Linked DNA regions of Homo sapiens. The protein of the gene in region 1 interacts with the protein of each later gene in a biochemical or structural test. Each region holds a gene or a part of one and is shown in the gene's direction. Other genes may lie near its edges. The genes, in order: LEF1, RNF138, PITX2 and KMT5A.

Evidence for each region.
Region 2: of the proteins of LEF1 (region 1) and RNF138, one has a biochemical effect on the other in vitro, tested with the Homo sapiens proteins (one study listed by BioGRID).
Region 3: the proteins of LEF1 (region 1) and PITX2 form a complex in vitro, tested with the Homo sapiens proteins (one study listed by BioGRID).
Region 4: the proteins of LEF1 (region 1) and KMT5A form a complex in vitro, tested with the Homo sapiens proteins (one study listed by BioGRID).

The regions. Positions count from the first base shown.
Region 1 is NC_000004.12:108,088,931-108,095,954, reverse strand, and holds part of LEF1 (lymphoid enhancer-binding factor 1), read left to right. Parts: intron 1-6,697; coding exon 6,698-6,830; intron 6,831-7,024. UniProt on the Homo sapiens protein: Transcription factor that binds DNA in a sequence-specific manner. Participates in the Wnt signaling pathway. Activates transcription of target genes in the presence of CTNNB1 and EP300.
Region 2 is NC_000018.10:32,122,868-32,129,891, forward strand, and holds part of RNF138 (E3 ubiquitin-protein ligase RNF138), read left to right. Parts: intron 1-650; coding exon 651-707; intron 708-1,866; coding exon 1,867-1,978; intron 1,979-3,825; coding exon 3,826-3,933; intron 3,934-6,251; coding exon 6,252-6,320; 3' UTR 6,321-7,024. UniProt on the Homo sapiens protein: E3 ubiquitin-protein ligase involved in DNA damage response by promoting DNA resection and homologous recombination.
Region 3 is NC_000004.12:110,620,074-110,627,302, reverse strand, and holds the start of PITX2 (pituitary homeobox 2), read left to right. Parts: upstream 1-4,225; 5' UTR 4,226-4,842; coding exon 4,843-5,047; intron 5,048-5,669; exon of another isoform or gene 5,670-5,704; intron 5,705-5,933; coding exon 5,934-6,139; intron 6,140-7,229. UniProt on the Homo sapiens protein: May play a role in myoblast differentiation. When unphosphorylated, associates with an ELAVL1-containing complex, which stabilizes cyclin mRNA and ensuring cell proliferation.
Region 4 is NC_000012.12:123,379,427-123,387,136, forward strand, and holds the start of KMT5A (N-lysine methyltransferase KMT5A), read left to right. Parts: upstream 1-4,705; 5' UTR 4,706-4,772; coding exon 4,773-4,782; intron 4,783-7,710. UniProt on the Homo sapiens protein: Protein-lysine N-methyltransferase that monomethylates both histones and non-histone proteins. Specifically monomethylates 'Lys-20' of histone H4 (H4K20me1).

The DNA.
Region 1 (7,024 bases):
ATAATAGGATGTTGCAACTTTACATAATTAGATGTCATTTTTCCTTTACCCTGATCTTTCCTCAGCCTCTAACCTTAACCCCAGTCCCTCTATTTACAGGCTCCAGTTACTGAAAACAATGGGTCTCCTTTTGGCTCCCAGAATGAATTATTCCCAGAGCCTTGTTTCCTTCTCGATAAAACAGAAATCTTAACACCTAACTTAGGTATGGCTTTAGGATTAAATGACGTAATGTTTGGAATTCACCACCTTACAGAGAACTTGGAGAATAGTGGGTTTTCCATGCGTTTTAAAAGGGAGCCCTTCCAGCATTCTGTTGTAGTCTGATTGCCTCTGGTAATATCAGTTTTCTCCAAGTGGTCCACTGTTCCTCTCTAGATGCTTCATTACAGTTGAGGCCACAGCAGGCCACATTCACTTGGTTGGGGGGTAGTTTGGAATAGAGATGGAGAGAGGAGCTGAGCACCAAACAGTGTGGGGCAGGAAGAGCAGGGACTTTGGTATCAAACAAATGCCGGCACAGATCCTCTCTCCACTAATTATTACTTAGCTCTGTGTTCAAAAAGACTCAGCCTTCTCATCTATAAATATGGGGGTAATAATACCCACTTACATGGACGAGTGCCAGAGTATATAAAAGCGCTACTGTAATGACTGGTACTTACTAACTGTGCAACCCATGTTAATTCCTTTCCCTGTGATATGTTCCTTCCCCTCTTAAGAAAACATTTCAGTTGTCTGATGATGGTGCAGGTCTCTAGACCATCCCTTTTCCTCCAGAGTTGGGCTCATGGACCGTTTGAATCTTAAGATCCTGGGGCCTCGTTCTTATCTGAAAAATGCAGCTGCATCACCACCAGTAGGGGGTCTTACATTTGAAAGCCACATCAGACCTGAAGCAGGTGTTTGGCTTTGGTGGATCTTAGGAAATATTTCCAGTACCTTGTTTCTGAGGTCTAGATGCAAGAATCAATGTATCCTTTTGGAGTAAATCTGCCTCTCTTTCTGGGAAGGCTTGAGAAGCTCAGATTCTCAGAAAAGGAGGGAAAGGCGCAGCATGAAGTTACATGGCTTTATGTCACGAGTACCAGACTTCTGAAGTGTTTAATGAAAAGCAAAAATGCCACCATAACAATCAAGGCCAGATGAAATTCCTCATCTCAATAAGTTGATGAAGTGTTAAAATTCCCCTGGATTCAGTTATTACCAGAAGATTATTGATTAAATGCACAGCCAGTTGAAACTCCAGACCTTTATGCACAGCCAGATCCCGCACTTTGGGTTTAGTTTAGTTAGAACCTGGAGATGTGGAAAATGAGGACTAGCTACCAGGACAGCAGGTTTCTCCCCCAGTTACTCCTCTATCCAGGAGGCCCCAGGCCTTAGCCAGTAGGGAGTTGAACCACCTTTTTAGTTCTTCCCAGAACCACATCCTCTGAGGCTAACAGCTTTCATGACACCTTCAATTCCTGCCAGTGGTGAGTGGGTCATTTCTGGGAATGCTGCTTTGGGGGTGGCTCTCAGGATCCCTAAGTGGCACCCACTTCGTGTCCACAGGAGGTATGGGTTTTATTGGCTGTGATGCCAAAGAGGTCCTTACCTGCAGGGACCAGCCTGGGTGGCAGCCAACCAAGCTTCCTTGGCATGTTTTCCAGTCCTGGAGAGAAAGGCTGCAGTTGAGTCTCCGTAGCTTTACCCACTTCTGCTGAGGTGCTTCTTTGTCTCAAGTGATTCCTGTGCCTGGGACAGAGACCACACAGCCATTTCATAGATGTCACATGCTCTCAGGTGTGGCCCAAATGGTCACCTCAGTGTCCAAGATTTTATGAACTTGGCTTTCAGGAAGGCCACATGATGTACAGGTAATGAGCTTGGCCTCTAGAGCCAGACTTCTGCATTTGAATCCTGGCTTGGCTGCTTGCTAGAGCACATACCCTTCAAGAATATTTTCTTCTCCATGCCTGTTTCCTCATCTGTAAAAGGGGGATAATAATAGTACCTGCCTCAAAGCTGTTGTGAGGATAAAGTGCTTAGCACACAGTAAGCAGTTGGTAAGTGTTAATTGCTGTAATTACTATGTATTATGTGGGTAGGTTGGCCTGATGGTGATTTGCAAATTTAAGAAAGGGTTTCAAGCTTCTCCCTAAACAGCCATCCTTGATATTTTCTCCCTTTTCTTTCTTTCTTTTTTTTCTTTTTTAAGTATCTACTCTTTTTGTCTTTTCCTTTGCTCACCCACCAATCACCTGCCTGAGATTAAAGAATGTGCAGTTGGAATCAGAAACCAAGGGTTTTGGCCTAACTCTTACTGCCTTGTGAGCTTAAACAAGTCACTGAACCTCTGACCAGAAGTGGAGAATTTGGGGTGACAGGGCTGCCAGGTATCTCGTAAAGCTGGAGTAACTGTGCATCCTGTGACCCTGGGATAATGAAACAGAGCACATATTGGGACTACCTGGTGATTCTCAACTGGAAGCTAAGACTTACCTGATTGTATCTGTGAATCAAAAAGCAGGTGATTTTTACCCTCTCTCCCTCCTTCCCTCCCTTACAGCGAGATGTGTAGTAGGAAAAGCACCCGAGTAGGAATCAGGAGACTTGGGTTCTATTAAGTGAGGTACTTACTATGTGTACAGTAGCCAGCACAGAGTAAGAGCCAAAAGGATCGAACTTTTCTACTGCTGATTCCACTGTATTGGGCAGCCCAGGGGGTTCATTCCCATTGTATTCAGTGTCCCTGCGTTACTGGAGTTGTGTAGTGAGCAGGACTGTACTATTTTATACAGTAGTCCTGGCTTGACCTACCCATTCCCTGGTGACCTCTGTTTCTCGGCTTCCAGTCTGTAAAATTAAAATAAGGAACTAAAATAAGCTACTAAATATACTTTAGGTTTCTTAGAGCTTAAACATAATAAAAAGGCATATACTTAGATACACACTTTCTCCTATCACCAGGTTCATTTTCTTCATAGTACTTGATGCTGCCTTTTCAGATTTTGCTTGTCTTTTTTTTTTTTTTTTTTTTTTTTTTTTTTTTACATATTCATTGTTTCCAATACCCACCCCCTGCTGCCTGACGCCACTTCCAGAGCCCCAGAAAGTAAGCTGCGAGAATTAGAGACCTTATCTGTGTGTTGGTCATTGGTGCTAGAATAGTGCTTGAAACATTTTAGGTGCTTAATAAATACACACATATGCACACGGGCATGTATAACTCTGCATGTGATGTAGCCACTTAATTTGTCTACAAACACTTAGATAGTTGGTTGATTATTCTTCCGCTTACCTACTCCCCACAAGAAAATATATACCACATTTTATTAGGAGATTAAATGAATGGAATTAAGAATGGTTTTACTGGCTGTCTTAAAACTTAACCAAAGTAGCAGTGCCAGGGTTCTCACTTTGTGTGTGCACATAGTGTCAAGGGGCAGTAACTTGTGAAATCAGAGGAAGCCTGCAGATTTTTGGGCTGAGGAATCTTGACTGTGATGATGATGTGCCACATATCCGCAGTGTAAGTTGGAATCCACTTTGTTCTGTTTATATACATAGTGGAGATGGTTGGCAGGAAGCAAACCATAACCCTTGGAATTCTGCTCACACATGCTATTGAAATTTCATATTACTTTTATTATTTGGCCACAAAAATGGACATAATCCTTGTTGGCTTTAACACACCTACTAGTACTGCTTTCGCTATCCATCTTGCAAAATATAAGACAAGGCCAGGCTTAAATTAAAATCCTCGGCTTCTTATCTCTTTCCCACAGGAAAGCAAATCTGTGTTGAAAACCGTAAAATTAAGAGGAGAGCAAGGATAGCATAATTTAGCAAAAATTCATGGCACCAGATTCTGAGCTATATGACTGGAGGGATAGGTCAGACATTAAGAAGATGCTGCCTGCTAATGCAAGTTCCTTAAGGTGGTGCTCTGGAAAGAAAGAATATATCCAGAAGATTTCCACAGTGTTTACTCTTTATAAGTACCCTAAGAAAATATCTTTGTAGATTGTTTGGCAATTATGCTTATTTATGAGACTTTTAAAATGAAACTGAAAGCCATTATTCTAAAGTATATTTGAAATCTATCGATTTTAACATTTGGGCGTTGAGATTTGTGTTTCCATTTTCAAAAGAGTTCATAATAAACTCCTCCTATCCTCACATCTACCCACCCCCACTTCTAGCATTCTAAATTCCATGTATTTAAGAAGCTTATTCTGTTATTTGGAAAACTGTGTCATTAACACTCGAAAAGCATTAGAAGATTTGTTTAACCTTTTACACATTTATATGCATAGATGTTTGTGCTGAGGTGTGTAGAGAAAAATTGTGTGGCTATGATAATGGCACTCTATTTAATATACGCCAAAAAAGCTATATGAGCTATGCAAGTTTTGCCATTAAAGAAGAGCTGATAATTATAAAATAGGGAAAATCTAGTATGGAAATTATATCATTTTCCAAAAAAAGTGTGATTTTTTTTTCCTTTTTTTTCCCCCCCCCGTAAGTTTCTTTTGGATGGAGGTTGTAATGATAGGGTATAAGAAGAATTACTAATTTTTCTTATAAGATAGGGTATAAGAATTCTAATTTTTCTAAGGGGAGTCCTTCTCATTGGAGCCACATATTTTTTATGGCTAATTTGTAAAAAATATTAAGTTCAAAATTAGTGTATGTCGTAGGTACAGCCACCATACACAAGTGTGTTTTGGGGGCCCTCTTTAACCATTCAGATATGGACTTACATTTTAAGCAGTTCACATTGTGCAGTTTTAGGCACTTCCTCAAATTTTTAAAAAATATGAATATTTGCTTCAGGAGAAAACTGATTTCACATGCATTTTAGTCAATAATATAGTAAGATCTTACTAATTCAAACTAATTATGATGAAGACATGTCTGAACTAGTGAATTGAGCATAATGATATGCTCAATTTTCTCTTAAATTCATGTTACCCATTACTATAGTGTTTTTAAGTAGAGATTTTCCTGCAACTGCTTTAATTATTAGATTAGTTTAAAATCAGAAACAAACACCTTTAACAGGTATATAATTGTGTTGAGTCCCTTTTTCTTTGGTGAAGGGTTTATTGAGTCTCTTTAAAATGATTCCCCTAGAGAAGTTGTTAATGGGTATAAAAATACGGTTAGATAGAAGGAATAAGTTGTAGTATGTACAGTAGAGAAACTGTAGCTAACAATAGATTATTTAATAGCTAGAAGGGAAGAATTTTAATGTTCACAACACAAAGGAAAGATAATGTTTGAGGTGATGGATATCCCAGTTATCCTAACTTGATCATTCCACCTTTTATACAGGTATCAGAATATCACATATACCACAAAATTTCTACAGCTATGCCATATCAATAAAAAATAAATAATAAATAAATAAGTGATTTTACTAATTAGGTTAAACCTACTTAAGTCTTCTTTATATTTTTTAATTACTTAGTAAGCACTTTTGGGTTGGGGGGAACAACCTTAACTTTGTAACCAAAGTAATCACAGATTTCAAATTGATGAAGTCCAATTAGATAACTTGAATTAAAAAGTGTGACTGTTGACTTCCAAATTAAATAATAAAATGTCTGTAAACAAGTATAAGACATATAAAGTGTGTTAAAATATACAATTTTAACAATTAAAAATATTATTAAAGCAGTATTTCAGCTGGACACGGTGGCTCATGCCTATAATCCCAGCACTTTGGGAGGCCAAAGTGGGCAGATCACAAAGTCAGGAGTTCAAAACCAGCCTGGCCAATATAGTGAAACCCTGTCTTTACTAAAAATACAAAAAAAATTAGCTGAATGTGGTGGCGGGTGCCTGTAGTCCTACTTGGGAGGCTGAGGCAGGAGAATCACTTGAACCCGGAAGGTGGAGGTTGCAGTGAGCCAAGATCACACCACTGCACTCCAGCCTGGGCGACACAGTGAAACTCCATCTCAAAAAAAAAAGACAGTATTTCATATTATGCAGTTCAACTCAAGATTGGAAATTCCTTTTTATCAATTAATGTTTATGGAAACTAGAGAAGCAGAAGATGAACTGAGGAGGGCCAAAGCATAATGGCTAGTCTTGTTTGATTGACAAAGCTATAAAACTCGAAAGAATGGTGTACCATGGTTCTTAAAGATGTACAACATAGAGTTATGAACTCTGTAAGCTGAGGGGATATCAGTATAGGAAATTTATATTTATTGGGTTTAAAAATTTATCCTTTGAATTGGCAATATTTATTCATTTATTTGCTCATTGGACAGTTTTTTGCTTTTTGTGCCAGACATATGTAGTGAATACAAATGTTGTAAAACATTCATAAATTTTGCTGTAATTCGCTCTTTATTGACTTAACCTGAGGAAATAATCTAAAAGAGAGTATAAATATATATGTACAGAAATTCATGCCATATGGAAGAGTAGTGATCAACCTAAATCCCTGAAGAGTCACTGGTGAAATAACTGATAACTCATGAATATCAGTGACATATTCATATATTTGAGAAGTATTTACCATGGAAAAATTCAGAAAAATTCTAAAAGAGACATTTCCACCTGTCCAGGTCTGAAGGTGATTCTTGGGTTATGTTGATGACTGGTTACTGCTGCTGTGTGAATTTTTTTCTTTGGGAGAAAAGACTGGAGCTGGGCATCCATATTAACTATTGACCTTGTGGTTACTTTGCAGTCAAATAAAGTGCCCGTGGTGCAGCCATCCCATGCGGTCCATCCTCTCACCCCCCTCATCACTTACAGTGACGAGCACTTTTCTCCAGGATCACACCCGTCACACATCCCATCAGATGTCAACTCCAAACAAGGTGAGAGTCCCTGTCTTTCCAGGCCCTTTTTTTTTGCCAAATGAAGAGCCAAATCTCATCAGCCTGAGTGACCTTCCAGATGCCAGTGCTCCATGTCACTGGGTGGATCAGAATGTGTTTTTACAAGACAAGAGTAATTCATTTGATAGCAATTCTTTGGAAACACACAAGAATCTGTTACATTTATTATGCAT
Region 2 (7,024 bases), on another chromosome or scaffold:
TCAAATTCTGTAGCACACAGGTGACGGTCCCTGTATGGAATACTTACTCTTCCCTCAGGATTCCTCTGATATTCCATGTGACACATGACTCTCTGGCATATGGTAAAAGTGGAGATGTTAAGTTGTTCTGTATATTAAATGTTAGTGAAGCCTGGTTTCTTTCCTTTCTGGAAATAAAATACAAACATAATGAACATTTACATATTTTCTTAAATTACTGCACTTTGGAGGGCATAACCTTATACCATGTCCTAGTTTGAAGTAAAAAAGTTCACAAATTCTTGAGTCTACCGTAGCATTTAAAACCTTACTAGTCTAGGTAAAGGTAGAGGAATGGGATTTAAGGTAATTCTGCAAAATTCTCTATACTTCTGTAACTGTGCATAAGTTAATTTTAAAGAACATAAATAAGAATCTAGTAAGCAGTCAATTTATTTAAAAGTAATTAATATTGTAATTATTTCATAGTTCAGAACCATTTGAAGTTCAAATTTTGTTTTTTCAAGGACCCAATAGGAAAAAGGTGTATTGAAGTTCAGACTTTTAAAACAAATTCAGACTAGTCTTCTTCATTAATGGTTCAAGATAATGAACCTTTAGTGTGTTTTCATTACTTTGAGGTATTAACTTTTTCCCCTGTGCTTCTTAAGCAATAGGAGTGAAACATCCACATCTGATAACACAGAAACTTACCAAGAGAATACAAGGTAAGCTTTTGAAAAATCCTGCCACTTTAGCAAGTAATATTATATTTATCACTTATCAAATAGCTTTTTAAATTAAACTTTTTTTTTTTTTTTTTGAGACGGAGTCTCACTTTGTTTTCCCAGGCTGGAGTGCAGTGGTGCGATCTTGGCTCACTGCAACCTGCGCCTCTCAGGTTCAAGTGATTCTCCTGCCTCAGCCTCCCAAGTATCTGGTATTACAGGTGCCTGCCACCACGCCCGGCTAATTTTTGTATTTTTAGTAGAAACAGGGTTTCACCATGTTGGCCAGGCTGGTCTCGAACTCCTGACCTCAGATAATCCACCTGCCTTGGCCTCCCAAAGTGCTGGGATTACAGGCATGAGCCACTGCGCCTGGCCATAAATTAAACTTAAAAAAAAAAAAAAAATCAGTTACATCATTAGGCATAGTGTTTGAAGTTAGCAGTTTAGAAATAGAAAATGCAGTTACTGCTTTTAAGAATCACATTAGGTTAGAAGAGTTTAGTTATTCTCTTTCACTGTGGTCAGGTTTCTTCCACACACGATTCAGGTAAAGTTGTCTGTGTTGAACTGTCCCTTCCTGAAATTCAGAAGTATTAAAACTCAGTGATGCTTGATCCTCAGAATGTTTTCGAGTATTTCATTCTCATGATCAGTGCTTTTGTTTTTTCTTTTCCTTTGAATTTTGGATGTTGGATTCCTAGGGCCTGGTATTTATTAGAGATACGATATTGATGGAAGTCTTTTAGAAGTTTTAAGTTCCTAGATAAAAGGTTTGCAAAATGTGGAATACTACAGAATATTAAAAATTTTCAAGGGACATACAGTGACAGCTATTGGCATCAGAAAACAACTACAATTAAGTTTGGACCTAACTACATAATATATGGAGTCAGCTAGGTTTTTGTTTTTGTTTTTGTTTTGGCCTAGAGGTGCCATGAAAAAATTTATTGAGGACACTAAGAGTACTGTAAACTGAGATTGGGAACCTCTGTAATGCATCATTTCCTGAATACATATGTTCAAAATGAGAGAATCTTTGAATAGTCTAATAATTATAACTTTTTTAAAAAATGTATAGTGATTCCTCAAAAAATAGGAGAGCGTTATTTTTGTGTTATTCTGAATTAAGTATGTTTCACTTAAAATTGTTTTATAGTTCTTCTGGTCATCCTACTTTTAAGTGTCCCCTGTGTCAAGAATCAAATTTTACCAGACAGCGTTTACTGGATCACTGTAACAGTAATCACCTATTTCAGATAGTTCCTGTGGTAAGTACATACGTTTGAGACAGTCTTCTGCTTAGAATAAAACATGCTGTTCTATTTATTTCACTTCATGTATGCAAGAGAAAGTAGTTGATTTATATTTGGTTGGGGCATTATCAGTAAGGTAGATTTTTGTCAACAAAGGATTGATGACTGTGAAGCAAAATGAGATATTTAAAATTGCAGTAACTCTCATTATAAAAAGGGAGATGCATAGTGTGAGGTAATATAGCACAGTCTGGAGAAGAGTGAAGTAATGAAAGATGAACCGGGAACTCATTCCTGCGCAGTAGCACAACCTGTCTATTGAGGCCTCAGTTACTTGCTCTGTAGATGGCAGACAAGTAGATCTAGTCAGGTAGATTGCTGTAGGTGAAAATACCTGTAAGTAAGAATAAAGTCAGTAGGTATTTTTATTGTTTTCTTGCAGCATATAGTATGTGAATGCATAAAGCAAGGAAGGAAAAGACTTAGACTTTGTATTTGATGCCTACATATTTTTTGACATTTTGAGGGTATGTAAGAAAATGGTGAGAGCTTTTTGATAATGAGGGAGATAGAGCAGAATTCAGGATTCCAACATATAATGATCCTAGAAGTGTTTCATAGGTAAGTTATTTCAGCTGTGAATGGAACAGGAGAAACTGAGCTGGGAGAGAGATTTCCCTTTCAGCTGAACATTTTGATATATAAATAATTGTCTTCAGAAAGGAGAATAGGAAGGAAAATGTTATCAATAAGAACTGTAGATATTTCTAAGCTGTTTTAGTGAGTATGCTAGGAAAAGTTGTGAAAGAATGTGCTTCAGGACCGGGCACGGTGGCTCATGCCTGTAATTTAGCACTTTGGGAGGCCGAGAGGGGAGGATTGCTTGAGCCCAGGAGTTCGAGACTAGCCTGGGCAACATAGTGAGACCCTGTCTATTTAAAAATAAAGAAAATAAAAAGAATATGCTTCAATAACCATTGAGGATGACCTTAAGCTCTCACATACCACCTAAGAAGGTGTACTACCTACTTTGCTTATTAGAATGGGTTCAGTTATGCTTAAATAGACAAATACAGTGCCAAAGATGTTCCAGGAAATCTCGCTCATATTTAAGATTTTACTTAGTTTTATATTGGATTACCAAATTTTTATTCATTTCTGCATAATATTCGATATATCATAAACTTTGGCTAGAGTTTAATTACTGAAGGTTTTTTGTGTGTTATTTCAGTTATTTATCCATTCAGTTTTTAAGATGTACTTCATTTAAACGTAAGGATATGGCTGGGTGTGGTGGCACATGCCTTTAATCCCAGCACTTTGGGAGGCCAAGGCGGGAGGATTGCTTGAGCTCAGGAATTTGAGACCCAGCCTGGACAACAGTGAGACTGTGTCTCTAGTTTTAAGAAAAGAAAAGAAAAACTAAGGATACAATTTAAAGTAAATTTTCCAGTTTACTTCATTTTTATTTTACTTACAAATGAAATAAAACTAATAATAATTATATGGTTATTGTATGGATCAAATGAGATAATATATTGGATATGTTGCAGGCAGCCAGTTAGTGATAACTGTCATTACAGTTGGTATTATTAAAAGCTAGATGTGGTTTTTCTGTTGAAACATTTGTGTAATAAGAGATTTAAGGAATAGAATGTCTAAGATTTCTCACTGTGTTAGATTAATGTCATTTATCTAAGGTAATTGATTGGGAAATGATCTAGTCATGGAACTTGGCCTTTAAAAATGCTTCTCACGTAGATATTTTTGGTAACATATCCCTGTGTTATTTTAATACTGTCAATTGTATAATATTTCATTGTTTTTATTATTTTTTGTTTAAAACAATCTGTTTCTTATAGACATGTCCTATTTGTGTGTCTCTTCCTTGGGGAGATCCTAGCCAGATTACCAGAAATTTCGTTAGTCATCTAAATCAGAGACATCAATTTGATTATGGAGAATTTGTGGTAAGTGAATTCTTCAAGATTAAGAAAGTACTGTTTAAATATTAAAGTTAAAATAACTTTTTTGTAATCGACTTAAATTTTGTGGCAAGCTGTTGTATCTTACTGGATGGATTTAGAGCAAGTTCTTAGGTTTTTAATAATACTGGTGAACTTTAGCTTGTAGAAATGGTAAGGTAAAAATTGAGTTTACTCTCCACCTCCTGTACTAGAGAGAGAATTAATAAGAGTAACAGCAAGCACCCAGATTAACAAAATGATGATTTACATGAAAACTCTGTCAAGATTTAAGGGAAAATTGTACCTACAAGAGAAGTAAAATTGGTACAACATATGGAGGATGTATTTCTCATGTAGTATAAGTTGCTTGTATTATGCTAGAAATCTTAGATTTCTCAAATCTAGCATGTAAGACACAACGTTTTTAAAAATGAGGGAGCTTAGTTATCAGGCAAAGCCAGGTTACAAAGAGACTAAGAGTGTAAGAGAAGTTATATAATGTAAAAATGAATTCATAAAGCAAAATGGATTAATTTGTACTTCTAAATGTGTGATATACTTTTTTAATTAGGTGAAAACCTGTTTTATTAATTATTAAATTGCATTTTATTCAACTTCAGTTTAATCAAAACTTTATTTAAGATTAGTCCTGACAAAGAATGGCTATTTGTTTTCCAGTTTAGGTAAGCAGAGTGACATGAACAAAATATACATTTTTGTCTGCCTTCCAGTGTTGAAATTACATCATTCTTGTTAAATGGTTTTTAAATTTTGTAGAATTTGCATTATTTAGCCAATTTCAAAATAAAAATTCAAATATATGTAAAATTTAGGTGCGCTTTATTGCTTTAGCAATTTTATAAAGTAATTCTAGATTATTATTAAATTCTCATTGTAAGAAAGATTGCTATGTAATGTATTTGGAAATACAAAAATTTGTGAACCACTTTTGATCTAATTGTCAAGTTGTTTTATCTTGCCATAGAAAAGTAGGTAATCTAGGCAGGGCTTGGTGGCTCACACCTGTAATCCCAGCACTTTGGGAGGCCGAGGTGGGTGGATCACAAGGTCAGGAGATTGAGACCATCCTGGCTAACACGGTGAAACCCCGTCTTTACTAAAAATACAAAAAGTTAGCCGGGTGTGTTGGCAGGTGCCTATAGTCCCAGCTACTCGGGAGGCTGAGGCAGGAGAATGGGATGAACCCGGGAGGCAGAGCTTGCAGTGCGTGAAGATCACGCCACTGCACTCCAGCCTGGGTGACAGTGCGAGACTCCGTCTCAAAAAAGAAAAGTAGGTGATCTAATTATTTCAGATTGTCAAATAGAGGCCTTGATTTTAAAGCGAAATGCATAGGGCATAAAATTGATAGCAAATATAATTTTTTAAATTAAGGAGTAGTTTTATAACGATTGAATAAGCTGTAGGCTTCATGTTATGGTTAAGAATTTATTACTCATCTGGGCATGATGGCTCATGCCTGTCATCCCAGTACTGTGGGAGGCCGAGGCGGGTGGATCACCTGAGGTCAGCAGTTCAAGACCAGCCTGGCCAACATGGCAAAACCCTGTCTCTACTAAAGATACAAAAATTAGCTGGGTGTGGTGGTACGTATCTGTAATCCTAGCTACTTGGCAGGCTGAGGCACAAGAATTGCTTGAGCCCAGGAGGTGGAGGTTGCAGTGAGCCAAGATTGTGCCACTGCACTCCAGCCTGAGTGACAGAGCCAAACTGCCCCCCAAAAAATTTCTTACTCAACTCATAATTCAATAAATGCTTGTTTTCTTAAAATCAGTTTACTGTCAGATATTTGGCATTATTTTCTAGAGATGACACATTTATGATTGTGTGTTATGATTAACTTCAGTTTTATTTTTCATTTTTTATTTTTATTTTTTAAAGTGACAGTCTCCCTGTGTTGCCCAGGCTGACCTCAAACTCATAGGCTCAAACTGTCTTCTGCCTCAGCCTCCTGAATAGTTGCAACTACAGGCGCATGCTTACCCAGCTTTCCAGTTAACCATATTTTTTATGAATGACTTATAAAGGCATTATAACACTCAAATTTTGTTCTGTGATGATCCTCTCTGTTTGTTTGTTATTCTTGAACAGTTACAACTGAACTTAATGTCTTATTAAAGTTCAGGTATTCAAATCTTGTATCTTAAAAGATACTGTTATATATGTTTTACATAACTGTCCTGAGTGTGTGTAATGTGTGTCAAGATGTGTAATGTGTATCAAGATGTCTAATGTTTTGGGCAAAGTATTAGAGTAGTTGAATATGTTTTTCCTGTTGACATGAATGTTATTGTTTTTAGAATCTTCAGCTAGATGAAGAAACCCAATACCAAACTGCTGTTGAAGAATCTTTTCAAGTAAACATCTGAAGGCTGTAGACATCTCTGCATCTTTGTACCTGCAAGTGCCATCTTTAAGGGGGAAACTACATGAAGTCACCGTTACAGTAACTTGATGTGTATATTAATAAAAGTAATTCAGTCATTTTAGTTTTTGATTGAAAATAAAGGTAGGGCTTCTAAAAACTTCATCATCTTGATAAGTTAAAAAATGAAAGTTATGACATTAGCTTTAAAGGTGTAAAAAAGATGTTTCACTAATGTAACGGTGAAAGAGAATCCCTGTTGTACTTTATCTTTTTGTAATATTATTTTTGAATTTTTCATTATTATGTTGCTTTTGAAATTTGATGCATTCCTCCCATTTACTTTATTATTGTACACATTTAACACACAGTAGCAAATTTTGAACGATGTGATTGATATAACCTAACAAATCTGAGCCAGTTATTATTAGAGTTGCAGAATAGAAACTTGAAGTGCTAAATGGAATAATCCAAAGGAAATTTTTTAAATGCAGGTTCTAGCTGAAAAATTCAACTATAAGAAAATTGTATTTATATAACATTTACTATTTTTGAAGACTAGTGAGATTTCTGTAATAATTTTAATTCTTTAAAAAGTGAAAGCTTGTTGTAAAGATATTTTCTTTTTGTTATTAGAAGGAAATACAAAGAGAAAAATTTCTTTCTTTCATGGGCATTTGATAATTTCAGTCTTTGACTGATTTGTAA
Region 3 (7,229 bases), 2.5 Mb from region 1:
TGTGGGTTGGAAAAATGGGTACCATTTGCAGGGACCCAGAGAGGGTGGCTGTTGCTCAATATATCTACAGACTTCCAATTCAGAAAATAATCTTCCCCTTTTGACAAGCCAGAGCTTTTTAAATTCCATTTAGGAAATGGGGAAAAGGACAGCTACAGTGAAGCTTTTAATTTCTGGGTTATTTGGTTCCATAGCTATGAGGGGTGGTGGGTAGTGGACTGTTTTCAGCTTGGTTTGTATGCAGAGAAAAGCCAGATATTGGAGGGGGTGGGGCACTTCTCGGGCAGGATGCAAGGTCTCCATCTGACCTCTGCGCCTTACCAGGAGCTCACACACTCACGCCCATCACGTGGCTCCAAGCTGAGTCCAGGCGGGCCTCGTCCTTGAGCTAGCTTGGGCAGGGCAGGACTCCCACCCGTCTAAGGCCTAACAGCTCAGGGAGATGTCTAATTAAGCCATCTTCTGGGTGAACTCTGAAGACAGACTCTTTCCAAAAGTCAGAGATCACTTGGTTGAGTCCCAGGCCAGATTGATACGGAGAGTTTGGCGGCACAGCCCAACCGCTCACTGCCATGGCCAGAGGGACTTTGCACAACTAACACTGAAGAGTGTGAAATTAAATAAGACTTTAAGACTGGTAATCGGTGGCAAATACCAGCACAAAACACGGCTGACCCCATGTCACACATTTCCCTCCTCTAGGGTCTTTCTTTGAAAGAATAAGCAAGAAACCCCAATCGAGACAACCCCTGATGTCTCCCAGACTCAAAACCTCACGCCGGCACTGGGCTTTCCTTCTTTGCCCCACGTGAGCCATGCAGCACCTCTAGTTTCCCTACCAGGATCCCACCAATGTTCTCCGTATTGGAAATTTCTGTGTTAGAGGCTGAACTCATAGTAATTTCTAAAACCAATTAAGAAGAACTTAGCCAGAGGTCACAGTAATGCTGGAATCACAAAATGCATAAGATTTATTTTCTTCTGGCCCCTTTCTCATCCATGCTGCCTATGCCTGTGCACCCACAAGTCTTATGTACATTAAATCTCCAAAATCAACCACCACCATGCCACAGAGTTTTCACTGGACAGTGTTTCTTAGTTCCCACCACATACCTCCTTTTCCCCATGCAGACTTATCATGTTGGTGTCCTGCCACACAGGGGGCCTGAGAAGAATGTCACCCAATCGCCGCTGCTGTGAGTGTGTAAAGTGATTAGGAGATTAGGAGAATGTTGAAACTCCTGCTGGAAAAATGCAAAGAAAATCCTCACTTTGAGTCAGTTGTTTACAGAGCCAGTGTGTGTGTGCGTGTGTGTGTCTGTAATATAAAATGGATGTGAATATATATATACAAATAGATATGGTTTTGCTTTTACTTTAATCTGAATTATCTAGATAATTGTCTTTATTCACCACTTGACTTCAATGGGTCCACACAAATTAGGACACCTTATCTTTTTAGGCATCTAGGCTGCTGCTGATCCCCAGTGCTTCCAACATCTCGCACACGTTGGCACTATGAGGAGCAGTCACGTGCCCTTGGGTTTTTCAACCACTTTGGAGGCTGATTGAGGTCCTTCATACATGTATATTTGTCGTGATGAAAGTTCCATCGGTAGAGTGGAGCCACCAGAGCTTTTATCAAAATTCTGTGGGTTTATGAGAGATGGGTTTAGAAATCTATATGGCTCTGTGGGGCTTCTCGGCTTTCTAAAATAAGGCATTAACACCCAAGCTTCCAAAAATATTTGCAGCTCTGGGGTTTGAATCTTGAAAAACAAGGAGTGAGGGGCTGTGTATACTAACTACAGTGGAGATTTTTTTCATTCTTTAATGTGATGGAGTCCCTTCATGAAATGAAGCTTTAAGGGGCATGGTATTGTGGGGACCACAGCTATTCTGAGGTTTAAAAGAAGAAACTGGAATATGATTAGTAAACACATTCAGCAGAAAAGAGCTGGATTCTTATTGACTTAGTTATAGGTCATCGGCTGGCAGTGCAATGGGAGGAAATATTTACTTTACACATATACTTTATGATCTTGGGGGAATTAGAGGAAATTCAATAAGAAAACGGCTAGAAACATTTAAAACCCTTATTTAAAAGACTTAAGCAAATTAGAGTCTTATCAGATTAAAAACCACTACAAATGTAAGAGCATTGTCTTCAGTGAAACGCTGTGGGGTCTGAGAAGGAGATTCTCCGCCAAATCTCCGGGATAAAATGCGTCATTTAAGCACCAGATAATGAGCAGAATGTAAATTAATTTAACCTTCTTTACCAACAGGCTGCTAGTGTAATGTGTATAATTTAGTGATAAGATTGCAGGACCTAATATAGCTGGATGTATGAGCCTCAGCTAATGCAGACCTGTCACATGAGGATGTGTTTTACTCTGAGCAGGTGTCTGTATGTGTGGAATGGGGTAAAGTGGAATAAAAGGTTAAAAGCAGAAATGCTGATTTAAAGCTTACTATGAAGAAATTCCTCCCTTGCAGCTAAATTATTCTTAAAGTGGGATGATACTGGTGAAGAAAGACTGAAAAACAATTCTCATGTGCGTCTTTGGACTGCAAGTTTAAAATGGGGAGGAGTTGCAGATAGGGTTTGGGGGTGGTCAGGGCAAAGGAGAGACACATAAGTTGCAAATATATTTGTAGTCTGCTTCATCCACTTTGTTCCACATCGAATAAGTTTCCCAATCTTGTGAACAAGGACAAGGAGGGAGTGTTTTAAAGATACTTCATGCTGGCATTGCAAATCATTGACTGTAATGTCAAACAAATACACATTCAGAGATGATAACACTAACTCCATAGTAAAACAATCGCCCATGCAGAAACCCAGAGGAGATTAGTTTGTCCTCTCCAGCTGACCTATGCTGGGGGACAAAAGGACTTTCAAAAATTATTTTGAATATGTTTGGATTTCTTTCTTTAATTTCTTTGGAAATTAAATTTGCTTGGAAACAGTGCTATAAAGAGTTGATGTCTCCAAAGGTGATTTTTTTTGTTTTATATAAATAAGGTTTTGCTTTTGCTAGTTGAGCGCAGTTCTAGGCTTTTCGCCCTTAGCTCACACACACCCCTTCTGCCTGCTTGGACTTTAATGGCTCAAGACAGCCTTGAGCTCACTGGGAAAAGAAAATGACTGTTAAAAATTATCCTTGAAATTGGTTATTTGGCAACATTCTTAATTGTATGGAAATTCATTAAGGCATATTTCATATATAATTAGCTCAAGGTTGTTGATTCTACAGGCTTTATGGATTTAAATCTGATTGATAATAAAGTAAACAAGAGAGTCGAATTTAAAGCGTGGCTCTCTCGGGTTAGGACGAGCTTAATACAGTGTACAAGGAATTTGAAAGATCTAGGATATGTGTCTTAATCAACGTTAAGTAGAATGGATAAGCTTTCAGCATTTTGAAAACGCTGGGTTAGGGTTTCTCTTCTATTGTGTGTTTTCTGTCTGGGGACTAATAAGCATCACAGAGAACGTGATCTGAGGCGACTTTTTATTCTTGTATAAATCCAGAGTGAACCACCAAACAGTTGTTCGTTTAAAGTCAAGGTAATTTTCTTTTGACGGGTCCATTTGCTTCTCGATTTCTAATTTATTAGCCTGCCTTTTCAGGGCTCTGTCTTCTTTGCAATTAAAGCTTCTTCAGATTAGCGCAGCATTCACTTGACAGGCTGTTTGGAAAATTTAAGATCGGAGAGGTGATTTGTTGCTGTTTTTCAAATTTTCTAGTTTTAAGTAACGTGTCTCCTTTTTATATGGGGTGGGGGATTGGAAATGGATGTAGTGAGACACAAAGAGTGGGTGTCTTGTTGATCCTTGTACCTTTCTCTTCTTGACCATTCCACTCTCTTCTCCCAAGCCTTCGACTCCTAGCCTCATCTCTTCACCTTTGGGTTCGTACTAAAAGCCGGATCGCCTTGGGCTGGGCAGGAGCTGAATTCCCGGGAGCTTGCCTGTGTAGACCCAGTGCGCACGGCGAGGCAGTAGCCCGGCCCCGCACTGCTGATAGGTGCAGGCAGGACAGTCCCTCCACCGCGGCTCGGGGCGTCCTGATTGGTGCGGAGCCACGTCAGTCGCACCCGGAGAAGGGTCTGGGAGGAGGCGGAGGCGGAGAGGGCTGGGGAGGGCCGCGGCGGAGTGACGTCTCGGCACCAGGAAGCCCGCCTCTGGTTTTAAGATGTTAGGCCAACAGGGAAGCGCGGAGCCGCAGATCTGGTCCGTCGCTCGCCTGGGTGCCTGGAGCTGAGCTGCGGCAAGGCCCGGCTCCTGTTCGACCGCCCGAGGGGTGTGCGTGTGCGCGTTGCGGAGGGTGCGCTCAGAGGGCCGCGTCGTGGCTGCAGCGGCTGCTGCCGCCGCAGGGGATCTAATATCACCTACCTGTCCCTGTCACTCTTGACACTTCTCTGTCAGGGCTGCCGCGTGGGGGGGGGGCGGGCAGAGCGCGGTCGGCGTTAGCTTTCCTTATTGGAGGGGTTCTTGGGGGAGGGAGGGAGAGAAGAAGGGGGTCTTTGCCCACTCTTGTTTCGCTTTGGAGCTTGGAAGCCTGCTCCCTAAAGACGCTCTGAGTGGTGCCCTTCTGCCCACATCCCATGTCTTCGTTTGCCCGCTGACTTTCCGTCTCCGGACTTTTTCGCTTGAGCCTTCCGGAGGAGACGGGGGCAGCTTGGCTTGAGAACTCGGCGGGGGTTGCGTCCCCTGGCTCTCCCCGCAGCGGGGAAACTCCGCGCCTAGAGCGCGACCCGGAGCGGGCAGCGGCGGCTACGGGGGCTCGGCGGGGCAGTAGCCAAGGACTAGTAGAGCGTCGCGCTCCCTCGTCCATGAACTGCATGAAAGGCCCGCTTCACTTGGAGCACCGAGCAGCGGGGACCAAGCTGTCGGCCGTCTCCTCATCTTCCTGTCACCATCCCCAGCCGTTAGCCATGGCTTCGGTTCTGGCTCCCGGTCAGCCCCGGTCGCTGGACTCCTCCAAGCACAGGCTGGAGGTGCACACCATCTCCGACACCTCCAGCCCGGAGGCCGCAGGTAAGGCGCCGCGCCGCCCTGCAGACATTCCCGCTCAGCTGCTCTGCGCCACCCGCTCCCTCTCGCCCCAAGGAAGTCAGCCCCTCCGGGGGGAGGCGTGGTGGGAGTGGTCGTTCGCCTGGCTCCCCGCAGAACTTCCGGGAGCCGGAATTTTGACTACCCCGCATCCCTTTAGTTCTCCCTCGACCGGCCCGGCTCCTGGGGCGCTAAGGGCGCGAGCAATTCTGCCGCCCTCTCTATTCGTACCCTGGCCTCCCTTCTGTTTCCTGGGTCACAAAAATCCCAGCATCTTGATTCGAGGACCTTCAGAGGCCGCCGACCTCTGTCCCTGTTTTCCTCTCGGCTTTCAGCTCCCGAGGAGCTCCACTCGTTAGGAAATTGCCTGAAACCACTCAGAAATGCCCTTCGCGAAGAGGCATTTTTTTTTTTTTTTTGGGAAAGGGCCGGCGAACTTCGGTGCCCAACCGAATCCCCACATCTTTTCCTAGCCTTCCCAAACCGCATGGAAATCTGAGCTTTCTGCGAGGGGGAGGGGGGTCTGTAAACCACGCGCGTGTGCGCGTCCCAGGAGATTTGGTGTGTCTGCGCAGAGGTGTATAAATATACTTGAAAGCACAGGCTATAAAAGTGAATGTGCCGCTGCAGTGAGATAAACATGTAAATAAAACGTGCGGCGCTGGGGGAGGGGAGGAAATGGGGCGCGGACACCCACACTTGCGCCTGCACACCCCACAGGCGCAGCGCTCCTCGCGGCCCGGAGCCGCCGCGCGCACCCTCCTCCGGCGCCAGGCAGCCCAGCTCTTCCACGGCTTCTGCCGCCGGTCCAGTTGGCGTCCGCGTTGCAGGTGGGCATGCTGACGGGAAAGTGTGTGTGTTTCGTTTTCAGAGAAAGATAAAAGCCAGCAGGGGAAGAATGAGGACGTGGGCGCCGAGGACCCGTCTAAGAAGAAGCGGCAAAGGCGGCAGCGGACTCACTTTACCAGCCAGCAGCTCCAGGAGCTGGAGGCCACTTTCCAGAGGAACCGCTACCCGGACATGTCCACACGCGAAGAAATCGCTGTGTGGACCAACCTTACGGAAGCCCGAGTCCGGGTAGGAGCCAGCACGGAGTCTGGGAGGGATGGGGGGAGGATGTTGTGGAGGTACAGGCCAAGTAGACCAGGAGAGAATGTGGAAGGCAGCGCCGCCTGGGAGGGCGCCGGTGGGGCGCAGCTTTGCAAAGGCAGAAGGCCTCGCGGCGGCCTGGTTGCGAGATTACAGTTCCCTCTCCGAGGCCGACAGGACTGCCGCCCTGGCTCAGGCTCCCAGAGCGGCACCGGCTCACTGCCCCGCCATCCCGCGATCTCACGAGCTGGGCTGCATGGGCAATCCCCTGCACAGGACATTGTGTTCCTGGCTTGCAGTTGCCAGAGCAGAGCTAATAAAATCCCTACCAGGCCAAGAGCCGCGAACAGGCTCCAACCTGTGAGCCTTTAACAAGGAAAACCCGCCAGAGACACGGAAGAGTTGGCCCTCCCTGGGAAACCTTTGTCCCGGCCCTGGCCCAGCTTTTTCCCTCCTGGGCTCGCGCTTCTTACACCTTCTTTACGGTTGTTTCGGCCATTCAGGTCTCTCCCACACACCCTATTTCCTAGTTTTGTGATCTCCGGGAGCAAAGTTTTAATACACAACTACTAGTCCTCTTAGAAGGAGAAAGAAAAAAAGAAGAAAGACTTTTCTGCTTGGTTTATTTATCTTCTCTCAGGAGTTGAACTCTGGAAATTGAAACTCACACCCCCTCTTCTAAATTATAATCATAGTTTTGTAAAAAGGGCTTACCTTAACTTTGTAGCAAATCTGTACTTTATGGATTGGCAAAAATGAGCTCAAATAAATAACCCAATAGCAACGTCCTGGTTTATGCTGGTCGGTGGAAGATTCCAAATTTGTTAGGATTCTGGAAGCAGAAAACAGAATCAAGCAAATCAAGCGGCATCCAGAGGCTTTGCTGTTAAAAAAAAAAAATTAAGTGCTCTGGGTAGAAAAAATAAAGCCCCCGGTTAGAGCAGAGCAAACAAAAAGAAGAAAACAACGATAAAAAGAATAAAGACCAAAATGCTCTCCCAAATCAGAGGGAATGAAGACACTCTCTGGGTGGCATTTGTGCAAGGCATGAGGCTATGCTGGTGGATAAAAGGCCGGG
Region 4 (7,710 bases), on another chromosome or scaffold:
TGCTGTTGGTGCCTCCGCGGGAGCACAAGGAGGCTGTCTCTGGGAGTGTACAAAGAACCTGGAGACTGAACCAAATACTACTGCCAGAGGCAGTGTTATTACTGAGGGGAACATGCTAGGAATAGTAAGCAAACAGGCAAGAACAAGTCCCCTCTCTTCCTCCTGCCTCCCAGACTGCTTCTATCTGCTCTCATTGGAAGAACCTAACATTAACTGAGAACGGGGAATTATGGTTTGCTGCTCTGTATCACAGAACAGGGTAGAAATGTGGATATTACCCAGGCTGATCTCAAACTTATGAGATCAAGCGATACACCTGCCACGGACTCCCAAAGTGCTGGGATTACAAGCATAAGCCACCAGGCCTGGCCTGCCTTTTTTCCTTATAGCATTAATCACTATTTATAATGATCTTTTGGGCTGGGAGCAGTGGCTCATGCCTGTAGTCCTAGCAATTTGGAAGGCCAAGGTGGGCAGATCACTTGAGGTCAGGAGTTTGAGACCAGCCTGGCCAACATGGCAAAACCCCACCTCTACTAAAAATACAAAAATTAGCTGGGTGTGGTGGCGGGTGCCTGTAATCCCAGCTATCTGGGAGGCTGAGGCAGGAGAATCGCTTGAACCCGGGAGGCGGAGGTTGTGGTGAGCCAAGATCCTGCCACTTCACTCCAGCTTGGGCGATAGAGCAAGACTCTGTCTCAAAAAATAAATAGGCCGGGTGCGGTGGCTCACCCCTGTAATCCCAGCACTTTGGGAGGCCGAGGTGGACTGATCATCACCTGAGGTCAGGAGTTTGAGACCAGCCTGACCAACATGGAGAAACCCTTGTCTCTACTAAAAATACAAAATTAGCTGGGTATCGTGGCGCATGCCTGTAATCCCAGCTACTCGGGAGGTTGAGGCAGGAGAATCGCTTGAACCTGGGAGGTGGAGGTTGCGGTGAGCCGAGATTGTGCCATTGCACTCCAGCCTGGGCAACAAGAGTGAAACTCTGTCTCAAAAAATAAATAAATAAAATAAATAAATTAATTAAATTAAATAATCTTTTGGATGGGCGTGTGGCTCACGCCTGTAGTCCCAACACTTCGGGAGGCCAAGGCAGGTAGATCATTTGAGGTCAGGAATTCAAGACCAGCCTGGCCAACGTGGTGAAACCCCTTCTCTACCAAAAATACAAAAATATGCCCGGGCGCGGTGGCTCACGCCTGTAAGGCAAGCGCTTTGGGAGGCTGAGGCGGGTGGATCACTTGAGGCCAGGAGTTCAAGACTAGCCTGGGGAGCATGGTGGAACCCCGTCTCTACTAAAAATACAAAAAAGAAATAGCTGGGTGTTTTGGCGCATGCCTATAATCCCAGCTACTCGGGAGGCTGAGGCAGGAGAATTGCTTGAACCTAGGAGGCAGAGGTTGCAGTGAGCCGAGATCACGCCATTGCACTCCAGCCTGGGTGACAGAGCGAGACTCCGTCTCAAAAAAAAAAAAATAGGTGGGCATGATGGCACACTCTTGTAATCCCAACTACTTGGGAGGCTGAGGCAGGAGAATTGCTTGAGCCCAGGAGGTGGAGGTTGCAGTGAGTCGAGAACGTGCCCCTGCACTCTAGCCTGGATGACAGAATGCGACCCTGTCTTAAAAAATAAATAAAATAAAAATAATCTTTTAGGCTAGGGGTGGTGGGCTCATGCCTGTAATCCTAGCACTTTGGAAGGCTGAGGCAGCTGGATCACATGATGCCAGGAGTTTGAGACCAGACTGGCCAACATGGAGAAACACTATCTCTATTAAAAATACAAAAATTGGGCTGAGCGCAGTGGGTCACGCCTGTAATCCCAGCACTTTGGGAGGCTGAGGCCGTCATATCAATTGAGGTTAGGAGTTCGAATCCAGCCTGGCCAACATGGTGAAACCCCATCTCTACTAAAAATACAAAAATTAGCCAGCCATGGTAGTGGGCGCCTATAATTCCAGCTACTCAGAATGCTGAGGCAGGAGAATTGCTTGAGCCCAGGAGGCAGATGTTGCAGTGAGCCGAGATCAAACCACTGCACTCCAGCCTAGGGAGACAGAGAGAGACTCCGTCTCAAGAAAAATAAAAATAAATAAACAAAATGATCTTTTTTTTCTTTTTTCTCTTTTTTTTTTTTTGAGATGGAGTCTCTCTTTGTCGCCTAGGCTGGAGTGCAGTGGCGTGATCTCGGCTCACTGCAAGCTCTGCCTCAGCCTCCCGAGTAGCTGGGACTCCAGGTGCCTGCCACCACGCCCGGCTAATTTTTTTTTTTTTGTATTTTTAGTAGAGATGGGGTTTCACCGTGTTAGCCAGGATGGTCTCGATCTTCTGACCTGGTGATCCGCCCACCTCAGCCTCCCAAAGTGCTGGGATTACAGGTGTGAGTCACCACACCCAGCCTTAAAATTATCTTTTAAATAATGCCTTGTTTCTTCCCTAAAAGAATGCAGGGAAGGAGCTGTGTCTACTTTCCCTTCGGATCCTTGGGGGATCCAAAACAGCGGCAGGCATAGAGCTCAATAAATGTTGAAATAATCAATTTTGGAGAAAGCAAACACCTCTCTCTCTATATATATTTTTTGTTTGTTTGTTTGTTTGTTTTGAGACAGAGTCTCGCTCTGGTGCCCAGGCTGGATTGCAGTGGGACGATCTTGGCTCACTGCAACCTCTGCCTCCCGGGTTCAAGCACTTCTCCGCCTCAGCCTCCTGAGTAGTGAGATTACAGGCACGCACCACCACGCCTGGCTAATTTTTGTATTTTTAGTAGAAACGGGGTTTTCACCATGTTGGTCAGGCTGGTCTTGAATTCCTGACCTCGTGATCCACCTGCCTCGGCCTCCCAGAGTGCTGGGATTACAGGTGAGAGCCACTGCACACTGCCACACTTCCACATATTTATGGAAGCTGTAAGGCATGTTGGAGATTACGGCACCAGCTCCTTCATTTGACAGGTAGGGAAATGGAAGGCCAGAGAGCTGAACTGATGTGCCAAGTGACACAGTGACTTTGTGACAAAAGTGTCCTTTTCTACCTTTCCCAGTGCTTTCACATATATCATTTTATTTTCCTTTCCTATTTTCCTGGTGCTTTGGAAGAGTCTTTGGGCAATGGTTGGGTCTCCAAAACCTTTTCAATTACCAAAGAGACAGGATGGATTAGTGACCTCGTCCCACACCCCTGGGAGGGGCCCCAGGGAAGAGCAGTAGTAACTGGACGCCTTCCCTGAGTCCAAAGCAGACACTCCAGGACACCTGATTCTCTGGGAACATACTGACTGAGCCCCCTCTCTCAGAGGGGAACAGCGAATACTTGCTTCCCTCGGGATAAGGTAGCCATTTAGTGTTTGAACAGTGGAGAGACTGACCCAGGCCCTGCAATTACATTGCTGGGTGACCTTGGGCAGCGCGTAAGTGACCCGCTTCCTCTATTGCCCCATCTGTAAAATGGGTGGGTGTGAAGCATTAGGATCTTTGCGGTCCTGGAAGGACCTTCCCTACTGACCCAGTTAGTTGGTAGGAGTTGTGTCTGTGGGTTTTTTTTTTTTTCTTTTTTTGAGACGGAGTCTCGTTCTGTCGCCCAGGCTGGAGTGCAGCGGCGTGATCTCGGCTCACTGCAAGCTCTGTCTCCCGGGTTCACGCCATTGTCCTGCCTCGGCCTCCCAGGTAGCTGGGACTACAGGCGCCCGCCACCACGCCCGGCTCATTTTTTTTGTATTTTTAGTAGAGACGGGGTTTCACCGTGTTAGCCAGGATGGTCTCGATCTCCTGACCTCGTAATCCACCCGCCTCGGCCTCCCAAAGTGCTGAGATTACAGGCGTGAGCCACCGCGCCCGGCCGGGTTTTGAATACTGGAATATTCAATAAACCTTTTTTTTTTTTTTTTTTTTTGAGACAGTGTTTCGCTCTTGTTGCCCAGGCTGGAGTGCAATGGCGCGATCTCGGCTCACCGTAACCTCTGCCTCCCGAGTAGCTGGGATTACATGCTATTCTCCGGCCTCAGCCTCCCGAGTAGCTGGGATTACATGCATGCGATACCACGCCCGGCTAATTTTGTATTTTTAGTAGAGACTGGGTTTCTCTATATTGGTCAGGCTGGTCTCGAACCACGGACCTCAGGTGATCCGCCCGCCTCAGCCTCCCAAAGTGCTGGGATTACAGGCATGAGCCACCGCGCCCGGCCAAAACCTTTCAAACCTGAGAATGAATGGATCAAACTGCTGGAGAGGTCGGTGTGCTGGAGTTGCTAAACTGCTGGGAGACTCAGGTTTCCCAGCTCTTAAGGGAAGATCGAGGGGTCAAAGGTCGGGTTCCGGTCAAGCCCACAGAGAACCGGAAGTCCCAGATCCGGTCGGCTCGGAGCCCAGGGCTCCAGCCGGGCTACTCACGCTCCGGAGGCGGAGCTTCAGCAGCGGGAGGGGGAGGAATCTGGGGCCTCCCAATGGCAGCTCGGGTGTCTTCCATCGCAGCCATTCAACGTCTGGCGACGGTCAAATTTAAACACCCCTCCCACCTCCTCCGCCGGGACCTGTCGGGAAAGCGTTTGCAGTTATTGCGGCGGCTGGACACGCCCCGCCGCCGAAGAGGCGGGAGAAGGGCGGGGCCTTTCTCCGAGTTGGCCTATCACTACGGGCAGCCTGCGGAGAGGCGGGAGGCGGCGCCAATCGGGGCGAGCAGCTGGAGCCCGGCGGAGCAGTTGGCTGAGTTGTTGCAACTTTTTTCGAAAGCTGGGTTTCCCGGGAGATCCCAGGCGGTGACAGAGTGGAGCCATGGCTAGAGGTATTTGCCCAAGTGGCCGGCACCGGAGCGGCTGGGTCGGGGGTCGTGCTGGAGGGGTTGCCGGGGTGGAGGCAGCGGCTGCGGGGAGGCGTCCTCCTCGGGTGGCTCGGGGCAAGCTTGGGGACCCGCGTGGGGGGAGAGGGGGTGCTGCTGCGGAACCCGCCGGCCCCCCCTTGCGGCTCCAGATGCCCCCAGAAACCCTTCCCACTGCCGTGCTTCTGTTTCCCTTCTATGAAGTGAACACCTGCGGGCCTGCCTCTCCACGGCAGCAGATCCATATGTCAGAGCTCTTTGGAAACTAAAGCGCAGGGCACCTCCAGGGAATAGGTGTTATTGATAGAAGTGGGGCGGGGGCAGGAGTGAGGCTTCGCCCACTTTGGGGCCCTCTCTCTTTGGGAAAGGAGGTGATCCCGAGGCGAAGGCGCAGATCGATAACCTGCATATTGGGGTGCGCGTCAGGGTGGACACCGCAGCAGGCGCCTTTCCTCCCTCCCCACGTCCTGAGTCAGCTCTGCGCCGCTGGAGCGAAGGCCGGGCCCCGCTGGCCCACTTTGGGGTAAAACGGGTTCCTGGCATCTCGCGGGCGCGGTCGTTCGCCCCGCATCTGGTCAGGACTTCGCCCCCCGGTAGATGGCTTGGGTGGGCTTGTACAGCCCTGGGAGGCGATGCCCTGTCTGAAGTCCTCTGCATACTTAGTTGGCTGTCAGGACAGTGCCTCCCAGGTATGCGGCAAAGAGATCTCCAACCGCTTGGTCATTTCCAGCCACTGCGTCTCCTTCACGCCAAAGGGCCAAAAACTTGAGCGTGAAAGTTGAGTAGAATTAGTATTAAAAAAAAAAAAAAGTTTTGGTATTATATTTTTCTCAAAATTTCAAGGCTTCAAGTGTTAGTAGGAATTTGCTTTAGTGCAGTATGCTCCCTATAGCAATAATAATGAATAAAATAATGATTCATTCAGTAAATATCTATTGGGTCCCTTTGTTTTCAGGCCCTGAAGTCAGTTGCATCATCTATTCTCCTAGCATCCCTAGAGGTTCTTTTGGGATAAGACTTACCCAGAGCCTGATGAAAAAATGAGGCATAGTAAACTTCAGGTTAAAGAGCTTCATCACTCAACTCTTGGAGAAAATTAATACTAATATTTTTCCTTTGAAAAGTGTTAAGCATCTAAAAGTATATTTAACATTATCTGACTAATTTATCTGACAAATTTTAATAAAACTATGCTTCCTGGGTTCATTTTTCTCATCACAGCAAAATCATTTAAACTACTTGTTTTAAAAGTAGTGCATTAATTAATATATGAAGAAAACTAACCATCTATCATTGAAATACTTAAAATATGACTAAATAATAATTATGGCCAGGCATGGTGGCTCACACCTGTAATCCTAGCACTTTGGGAGGCCAAGGCGGGCAGATCACCTGAGGTCGGGAGTTCGAGACCAGTCTGACCAACATGGAGAAATCCCGTCTCTACTAAAAATACAAAATTAGCCGGGCATGGCAGCGCATGCCTGTAATCCCAGCTACTTGGGAGGCTGAGGCAGGGAGAATTGCCTGAACCTGGGAGGTGGAGCTTGCAGTGAGCCGAGATTACGTCACCGCACTCCAGCATGGGCAACAGAGCAAGACTCCATCTCAAAAAAACAAACAAGAACAATAACAAAATAATAATAATTACCACTGAGGGCCAGGCACTTTATTAACTCAATTGATCTTTACAAATTGTTATTCTCATTTTTTGGAAGAGGAAGCGTGAAGTCCAAACTTGCTGTCCAGACTCTAGCTTGGCTGGGTCTTTGCTTGTGCCACCCAACCTCCCTTACTTACCCAAAGCGAAGATAATGTTTGTCAGCTCCTCCCATGGCAGCTTACAAATCACCTATGTAATTATTAGTTATTGATTCTCACTGTCTCACTTGACCCCCAAATTAGTAGTTACCTGTTTCTTAGGCTTTACTGCCCTTGCAAGCTATTAAATTGGATATTTAGATTTAGATTTTTTTTTTTTTTTTTTTTTTTGAGACAGAGTCTCTCTCTGTCACCCAGGCTGGAGTACAGTGGAGTGATTTCAGCCCGCTTCACCCTCCCTCTCCTGTGTTCAAGTGATTCTTGTGCCTCAGCTTCCCAAGTAGCTGGGATTACAGGCACCTGTCACCACACCCAGCTAATTTTTGTATTTTTAGTAGAGACGGGGTTTCGCCATGTTGGCCAGGCTAGTCTTGAACTCCTGACCTCAGGTTATCTGCCCACCTCGGCCTCCCAGAGTGCTGGGATTACAGGCAAAAGCCACCACGCCTGGCCAATATTTAGAATTGTAAATACCAAATCATTTACAGCACTTCAAATGAACAGTCTTTTTCTTCTAGAAAATTGGGCTTTGAACTTGCAATTCACTTTGAGAGCCCTGCTGGGTCACAGAAACAAACTGGTCAGATGCCAGGCAACACCTCACTCATTTTGAAGTTTTATAATCATGCAAATATTTACAACCCCAATATATTAGTCTCAGGGGTCAGTCCACCTACCTTTCACTATTTCTACTGCCATTGTTGAATGGTCTCTTGGTTGGTTGCCCTCCTCATTTTGCCATCTTCAGTTCATTATCCCTTAGCACCTGGTGGGGGGGTCTCCAAAAATACAGACTTTTCTTTTTTTTTGGGAGACAGAGTCTCACTCTGTCACCCAGGATAGAGTGCAGTGGCACAATCTTGGCTCACTGCAAACTCCACCCCCCTGGGTTCAAGTGACTCTCCTGCCTCAGCCTCCCAAGTAGCTGGGATTACAGGCATGCGCAACCACGCCAAGCTAATTTTTGTATTTTTAGTAGAGACGGGGTTTCGCCATGTTGGCCAGGCTGGTCTCAAACTCCTGATTTCAGGTGATTTGCCCTCCTCTGCCTCCCAAGGTGCTGGGATTACAGGT